2 separate regions of the Homo sapiens genome follow, and region 2 is reported to be linked to region 1. The links are microRNA targets in miRTarBase. Many come from high-throughput screens and were not tested one by one. Region 1 holds a microRNA gene; the other region holds the end of a gene's coding sequence.
The links. Region 1 holds the annotated microRNA hsa-miR-6075 (ACGGCCCAGGCGGCAUUGGUG, at 1,806-1,826, opposite strand). A microRNA usually pairs through its seed, bases 2 to 8, with sites in the 3' UTR of a target mRNA and lowers its output. Matches are read on the target gene's strand: a 7mer-m8 pairs with bases 2 to 8, a 7mer-A1 pairs with bases 2 to 7 and ends in A, and an 8mer does both.

Region 1 (4,000 bases):
GGTCCCTCTCGTGTGCACTCACGCCATCGCGGTGCCCGACAGGGGTGCTGCGGTGAGGCCCACCAGGCGCAGGGATGCTGCGGCCCCTCCGAGCCCACTTGTTGGAGATGTCACACTGCAGTGCCCCAGCCAGTGAAGGGGCTCCAATGCACCTGCAACGAGGCAGGGGTGGAGGGGAGGCTGCCCAAAGGATGGCGCCCGGAGACTCGAAGGCCGCGAGGCCGCGTCATCCCGCACAGGCGGCCGGGGCAGATGCTCAGTGCCAGCCACCCCAAGCTCTACGGTTAGCGCGGTGGAGGCAGCTCACAGGAATGCTCCCTCCTGAAGGTGCATCCCAACATTGCTGCTTTAATTATGTGGAAAAAATTATCCCAACTCCACAGGATATGCGACAGTGCGCTTGCAAATCCACGAGAGAACGTGCACTCCTCCCACGGTGAGAGGGCGAGCGGCAGCACACACAGGCGCCTGCTGTCCAAGGTCTAATTTTCTTTTGCTTTTTCCTTTTAGAGAAAGAACAACTTTTGAAAGCACAGCAGTTCTCTCAGGCATCCCATCGGACGGAGCCGGCACTTCCATCAGCAAACACCACCAGCCCGCCCTCGGCATCTGAGAGCTGGAGGGAGCTTCGGGAATCACCCACTCCCGTCCAGCACCCACAGACACAAACCGAGCAAGGCAGCAGCAGGAAACGCCCTCCTTTTCTGTCTCCCCAATCACCAAAACACCTTTATTCATATAACATGACTTCTGGTCCAAACCAAACGCTGCCTTCAAATATGGAATCAGCGATCACGCCCACAATGAATTCTCATAGTTAACGATACTAAAAGCAGACAGGAAATGTGAAAAAGTGGCACCGTGAACCATTGCCGTGGGCTCTCTCTGCACACACAACCACTCTTACCTTTGGAGCCCGAGGCACGGCCCGCACCCCAGGCGCTACAGATCCCAGGTGAGGCCTGCAGGAGGAGGGATGGGCTGCCAGGAGCGCAGGCCACATCACGGGGACGGTTTCATTGGGAGGAACATTTTATGTTTACTGGGTATTCCCATTTCTGTTTGTGTAATTTTCTCATTTATATAAATGTATATACATCTTGTGCCAAATTTATGGTGGGTTTCTTTGTCTTTTTCTCACCCCTGTGAACATCCATTGTCTCCCTGACCTTAGATTTCAGTGAGGTCACACTCTGGAGCTTTTCACCCCCACCCCGTGTGACTGCAGGAGGATCTGCGCCTCCCCGCAGGAACCCCTCTCCCCCACAGCCCGTGCTTACTGCTATCTATAAAGCTGTTTCTTCTTCGCTCTCCCACTCAAATCTAAAATTAAATATAGCTTTTCTAAAACTGAACTATTTCTTTGCAAACCCTCAACCAGCCGTACCGCCTCCCGCCGCTGTCATCTCTACTCCACCGTCCTCACCAGAACCCTCGGCACCATCACCTACCCGAGGCTCTTGCCTGCGAGATGACAGTGTGTTCAGTAATTCCCTTTGGATTTGCAAATCGGCCCCGCAGTCCCACAGCACAGTGATTCTCCTAGACCACTCCATTTACCATTTTCAACCCACTCCAGTCCACGGGCGTCTTACGAGGATGCTGCACGGTGTTGAATGGGATCAAAGCCAGTCTGGTCTTGGCCATGTCTAAACCACGACACCCTGTGACTGGGGAACCCCCATCAACACCCAACCAGCTCCCCTGTGAGCCAGCTTCCAGGATACAGGGACGGCCCTGGGACCGTTGGCACCAGTGTCGTCACTGGGACTGGATGGTAGCATGCAGGTAGCACCCTGGGGTGACACCAATGCCGCCTGGGCCGTGGTGCTGCATCTGTGGGACACTGGAACATGACCTGGAGGGCAGGCAGGCCTGGAGGAGCATGTGGTGTCTCTGGAGCAAGGGCCGCTGCTGGAGGGCAGGCGGGCCTGGAGGAGTGCAGTGTCTCTGGAGCAGGGGCCGCTCTCCGCAGCGTGGGTGGAGGCTGTCTCCCATGGCTTCTGCAGGCCCTGGTTAGTCCTGCTTTCTGGAAACAGCCATGGGGGAGCACACCTTCCTCCTGCGGGGCGTCCCCACCAGCGTCTGAGGGGCACTGGCTCTGAGAAAACCCTGGGCCCCTAAGACGGCACTGAAGCCCCATATCCCAGCAAGAAGAGACCAGGGAGTCACTGCGGTTACTTGCTCATGCCCACGCAGGCCTTTCTGTGGATCTCCACACACAGCACCTCCGACTGCGACCGCACAGCTCCTCTCTTGCACCTGGGCTCACGGTTGGCTCTGCGGGGTTGACCTCCCCGGCGCGCGCTGTTTGTGTGTCCCAGTTACCTAGGTTCTGTAGCAGACGTGGCATCAGAGACCACGTGGCCCCAACCCCTCAGGGGACACCACCTGCACGCCTCGCTCACCCTACGTGGGGACATCACCTGCTCACCTCGCTCACCCTACATGGGGATGCACCTGCTCACCTCGCTCACCCTACGTGGGGACGTCACCTGCTCACCTCGCTCACCCTACTTGGGGATGCACCTGCTCACCTCGCTCACCCTACGTGGGGACGTCACCTGCTCACCTCGCTCACCCTACTTGGGGATGCACCTGCTCACCTCGCTCACCCTACGTGGGGATGTCATCTGCTCACCTTGCTCACCTTACGTGGGGATGCACCTGTACGCCTCACTCACTCTGCCATCAGGACACTGCTTGAATTCCTCTCTTGAACACAGAGCTGCTTCCTGCAGACAGGGTCAGAGAACAGCCAGGGAATCCCTGAGTGGGATCAGGCCACTCCAGTCTTGGTTGGCCAGGAACCGAGCCCCTCCAGGAGGGAGGTCCATCGAGCAGCCTCATGCATCTGCACAGCAAAGCTGTGCATCGTCCTCTGCTCCCAGATGGTGGCACCCTCCTGCTTGCCACTCAGCCAACAACCCCAAGGAGGCAGCCTCATGGCTGGGGATGGCTGTGTTGAGCTGCAGCCCCAGCTGTCCCTAAGCTCTGTGGCTTGGGAGGAGCATCACTTCCCGGTCTCAGCGGGTGTCTGGAGGGTGGGCTGGGTCCTGCTGAGGCCAGGCAAGGAGGCTCCACCTGGGCAGCCCCACATCACCACCAGGACACAGCAGGTGGCAGAGGGCGTACCACACTTAGAGCCCTGCTCATTCGCCAGTAAAGTGAGCCCCACGGCCACCCGGACAGGGCTTGGCAGGCACAGTAGTCTGAGCTCCTGTGTGGCGTGCGGCCCCGTGAGTCGCAGTGGGGCTATGTGCTGGGTGGTGCCACACAGGCAGGCCCTCCATGCCCCATGTCCAATCAGGAAGATATGGAGCCGCTGGGCCGGCCACACCCGCCTTCGGAGTCACTGTCAGCTCTGCATCATCATCCCACGGAGGCTCACAGGGTCACAAGGCCCCGGCCCAAGAGCAGTCCCACACTAGAGCCTCCCTCTCACTATCCCTGAAGCACCCAGTGTCCATGCTTCCCGTAGAATCAAGGGCCATAGACCCCCAACATCTGGGGCAAGCACCCTGCAGTCACTGGAGAAGACACAGCTTGCTGAAGTGCCCACGGGGGGCCACATCTCAGACTTTCAACCTTGTGTACTACAAATGCAGATTCCTGGACACCTTGTGACCTTTGGAATGAGGCTGTGCCCTGTGGGCTGACTCCCTCGGGCCCCCTGAGCTATGTATGGCCCACGCCTTCACCTGGAGTCTTCCTCCCATCGGGGGGCTCTGCTGTCTGGACTAAGCGTTCCCTGACACCCTGGCTCACACCCGTGATGCCAGCACAGGGCATGGTGCTCACACATTGGTGCTGTTGGAAAGTAACCAGTAAAAAGGTGTGTGAAAGAAAACACGCTTACTCATTCTGCAGACAATTCCTGAGCACCTGCAATGTGCACTCTGGACAAATGGTGTCCAGGTGCAGGCAGAACGAGACCGACGGAAACCGCAGCACCACCTGGCTCAGACGGCACAGGTGCAGCCCGTGTAAAGATGGCACG
Region 2 (4,511 bases), not on the chromosome of region 1:
CAAAAATTAGCCGGGCGTGGTGGCGCACGCCTGTAATCCCAGCTACTTGGGAGGCTGAGGCAGAAGAATTGCTTGAACCTGGGAGATGGAGGTTACAGTGAGCCAAGATCGTGTCCCTGCACTTCAGCCTGGGAGACAGAGCAAGACTCCATCCCCCCAAAATAAAAAAAAGAAAAGAAAAAAAGTATACTGGAATACAGGATTAACACGTGGAATGAAAGAAACTGAATCTCGTTTTTTTGTCCAGTTGAGGTGACTGGAGAGTCTTCCATTTGCAGATGAGCTGTGTGCCGGACCCATGAGTGTGGAGCCGGCAGTCACTGCCCCACGAGTCCCGCATGTCACAGCTTCTTAAACAGATGGTCAAGAGCTTACATGCGGTTCCTTATCCCAACCCGCCGCGGCCCGATGCGCCCTGGCTTTTTCTGGAACTGTTGTTCTGTGGATCCTCGCCGAGAACGCCCAGTTCTCCTTGCTGCTCAGTCATGGAGTCTCTCTGGGGACCCCGCTGCCGCGCTGGTCCTTCTGCAGAGGCCGCCTCCCTGCAGCGCTGTCTTGGTCAGGCTCCCAGCAGGAAAAGACGACACCCGAATGAAGATCATCTAAGGAGGCTTCAGTGAAGGGACCATTTACCACGGATGAGACAGCAGGGCGTGCGGGCGGCACGAGGGGCCGCTGTAGCATCTGGAGCTGCTAACAGTGGAGCTGTCACTCCCATGTCACACTCCCAGGCCAGAAGAGACCAGGGGAGGGGACTCAGCCCAGACACTGGGAGTGGCACCAGGGGGCTGCCTTGAGAGGCGAGTGCCAGAGAGAGTCAGGGACTCCCCAGGGGCCATCCCAGAGGGCACTGAGGAGGTTCACTGGGTCTGGGACCCGGAGGAGGCGGGGAAGGAGAGTGGGTCTGAAGGGTAAGGGGTCGATGTGGGTGCAATTGCCCTTTCTGATTCCGCTCTCCCGGTTTTCTGTCCCTCTCTGGCCGCCCCTGTCCTGTCTCTAGTTGAGGTCTTTCTTGGCCAGTGCCTGCCTCCCTGGCGCCTGTGGTTTCAGTGATGGGGATTCTTCCATGCGTCACTTGGAGCGACCTCGTCTGTTCCTGTGGACTCACTGACACACTAAAGACACCAGCTCAGCCCTGACCTCTCACCTGAGCGCCTCCTTACCAAGTCATCCAGATGGCTCCCCAGGGATGAGCAGCAACAAAACGGGCACGTGGGTGCCCAGCACACGTCAGGTGATGTTCTAAGCCCCTTGCGCGTACCCAGTCACTTACCGTTCACTGCAGCCCCGGGATGAGCTCTGCGATGAGCATCCTTTTGCAGACGAGGACACTGAAGCACAGGAAAGTTAGGTCATTTGCCTAAGGACATGCAGCTGGATGGGGACAGAGCCAGGATCGGGCTTGCAGTGGCTTCAGACCCCACCTTTCTGACCACAGCGCTCGTGCTCTTGGAGCGCCTTGAGATAGTGGGACAAGGCGGACTGGAGGACGCAGTTTCCAGATGGGATGCCCTGGCGGGCGACTCCCGTGCGCATGCCCAGCATCCTGCGCAGGCGCTCTCGTGGCCAGGCCTCTGCAAACAGTCAGCACAGACCGGGAGACAGAAAACTACACTCCCTCAGACGCTTTATTGTTTACAAAACAGATGGATCCCATAGGGAAGGAACACAATCATTATGCTGACAGCAGCGAACAGAGAGGGGAAGAAAAAAGGTGAGCTTTAAAGTAATCGCAAATCACTGCCTATGCGAAGAGGCTGCTTCCGGGCACCTGGGCTGTGACTCAGGTGCTGACATGAATACATCAGCAAGGTCTCAATTCAGCCACAGTCCCAAGTCCCCCAACCTTCCTGATTGCATCTCTATTTTAAATGACCCAGCCTGGACATCAAGGACAATGATCTAGGAGGCGGGTCAAGGAGACAGCCAGGCAAAGTCAGAACAGACTTGGGGCTTCCAGGCTATGCCCGGTGACAGCTGAGCTCTTCAGAAATGCGTCACATTCAGCGTTCACTTCCTTCGCTTCCTCCACTACCTATGACATAGCGGGGGAAAGAGACAACCATGAGAGAGGGGTCCCTCCTCGCTGCCCTCCTCGCAGCTGTGCTTGAGTTTCAAAGGGGGAGAGGTTTGTGAGGGACCGGCACAGGGACAGCCAGAGCCGGCACCCTCCGGCCCACCGTGGCACCCCTGACGATCGCGGGGTGGGGTAGGAGTGAGGGTGGGGGTCGGGGTGAGGTAGTGCTGTGGGGAGGGCACTGTGAATGATGGAAACGTCCCTTCTCAGCCTGGGTCGTGCCTAACCTGGGTCTCAAATCCCACTCTGCCTTCACCCTGGAGTACACTCCAGCGAAGCCGAGGCCCAGCCAACGCTCGTGAAGTTTCCACAGAGAAGAGCCTGCAAAACTCCCACTGGAAGAGGAGAAATAAAGGCCATGGAAAGAAACCCCAGGGAAGAGACAGGCCTCGTTCACAGACCCTAGGCAGGGAATAAAAAATTCAAGTCATTCACAGAAGTCTTGAAAGGCATGAGGATTTCTGACAGTTCCTAGAAAAAGGCAACATTTTCTTTATCTTTGTATCCATTGGCCAAGAACGCCGACATGTGAGACTTGCTTCACCAGCCGCCACCGCTTCCTTACAATCTCCCGCACTGCTGGAGCGGGCTGGGTAACTACAGGACTGTGCTCTGTGTGATAAGATTTGGTGATTCCACTTTATAAGAAAGGAAACTGCTTTAATTAAAGCAGGTTAATAATTAAAACTTCAAAGTACTGCACAGCCACAGAATTTTCTTGAAGGGAGAAAGCGGTCACTGGCCATATGATGCGGAGATGGTTTTATCTGAGGCCTGAGAACCAACAGATGTGCCTGCGCCCTGGCCTGTGCAGCTGTGGGCAGATGTGTCCCCAGGGGCCTGCCCTCACTCGTGACCATGCAATACCCTGCAACATAAACATTTTCTTTTCCAAGGATCTGCAGGGGTGGACATGATGCTCCAGGCACAGAGTAGGAAGAAAAGGGGGTGACCTGGGGTTCCCAGCAAACAGGTCCACCTCATGCTCACTGCGTTCTCAGGGTGAGGCATAGGGCCTGACATATGGTAGGAGCTCTAGGGATATTCACTGAACAAAAGAACATAGGAAAGAAAAGAAACGAGGTCGGATGGAAGAAACGACCCAGCCAGTTAGGCAGGCCTTGAGTCAATGCCTGAAGTGACCGAAATCACCACCAGATGGCAGCATGGAAAGCAGTTCAGACCGCGGCCTCCGTGGGGCCCGGGGGTCCAGTGCCCGCACCACTATGGGGCCCGGGACTGGGCTCCCTGTCCAGACCTCCAACCCAGGCACAGTTCCAAAAAGAACAAAACAAAACAAAAGTGCACTCCTCTTGTTTTTATAAAAGCTGAGTCCTGATGGCCTTGCTCAGTGTTTCCGTTTTGAGTTAAATGAACTCGATGCCTTCGTATTTCACGCTTCCGATCTTGGTCTCCGGCAACAGGAAGCGCCCGTCCAGCGTGAAGGCCATGATGTAGGAGGCGACTCTGCCGCTGTCCTCCTCGGATTTGAGGGCCACAATGATCTGGTCGTCGGTGTTGGGGATGAACTTGAAGGACGAGAAGCCGTGAGTGGGGACCACCGCCCCGACGTGGCTCACAGCGATGTCGCCGAAGTCAGGGGAGGCGCTCAGCAGCAGGTTGGCGCCCTTGCGCTCGTCGTCCTTCTCGCTGTAGCGCTCCTGGCTGGCGCGGCGCGGCAGGAAGAACCAGCGCTGCAGCGTGTCACTCCAGCAGGCAGACTCATGGATGAGGTAGCCTGGGAACCGGGTGACCGCGGGTCAGACACGCATGCGGCCTGGTGTGCCCAGCCCCACACCATCAGGCCGTGCGCAGTAGCAGGCAAGGGGCTGCGACCACCAGGGCCCACCAGCTCACAGCAACCCGCCCCTCCCTGCTCTCCAGGATTCTGGAAGGTTCTGTGTTCTCGGTTATCCCATGCAGGGAACCTGCAGCACCCGCTCCCTTGAAGCCTCCTCCCGTTCCACCGAGAGCTGCCTGTGAGCTGCATCAGGGATTTGGGCTCATCGGAGCCTCCTCGGGGCTGATCCAGAGGAACCCAAGGAAAGGGAACAAACCCCCATTGGATGTGGGGAGGCATCGGCGGGGAGGCTGCCTTGAGGCTGCAAGGAAGAGGAGACAGCGTCTGGGGCCCCAGGCACAGACTCAGTCACTTCCTCCTGAACCTCAGGCACCTAAGGCCTACTCCATCCTGACTAGGGGGAGGCCAAAGTGCTGCTGGCCCTATGTTGGTGTGGAACACCACGGCCCAGCGCCAGGGGTAGGGACAGGGCCTGACCCACCAGTGCAGACAACCGGGCCACAGGCTGGGATGCTAGGAGGCCAGCTGCCAGGGCGAGTGGGGCAGGAAAGAGAAAACAGCTCATTTGCCGCCAGAATCCACTGGCCTGAGGGAAGCCACCATCAGAGGCAACCAAAATCACTAAAATCAAGC

Region 2: the mRNA of CANT1 is a reported target of hsa-miR-6075. Seed matches in the 3' UTR shown: 7mer-m8 at 2,173-2,179.

Annotation. Positions count from the first base shown.
Region 1 is chr5:1,508,962-1,512,961 of GRCh38, forward strand. MIR6075 (microRNA 6075) reads right to left here and starts at 1,895; the gene lies at 1,801-1,895. All of the region lies in intron 1 of LPCAT1 (lysophosphatidylcholine acyltransferase 1), which reads right to left. RefSeq lists enhancers at 1-190, 191-708, 3,025-3,584 and a silencer at 2,813-3,107.
Region 2 is chr17:78,990,106-78,994,616 of GRCh38, forward strand. CANT1 (calcium activated nucleotidase 1) reads right to left here. Exons shown (of 5, transcript NM_001159773.2): 5 at 1,611-3,815. The coding sequence ends at 3,445. Among named protein-coding and RNA genes, the nearest start is that of LGALS3BP, 12 kb to the left of the region's middle.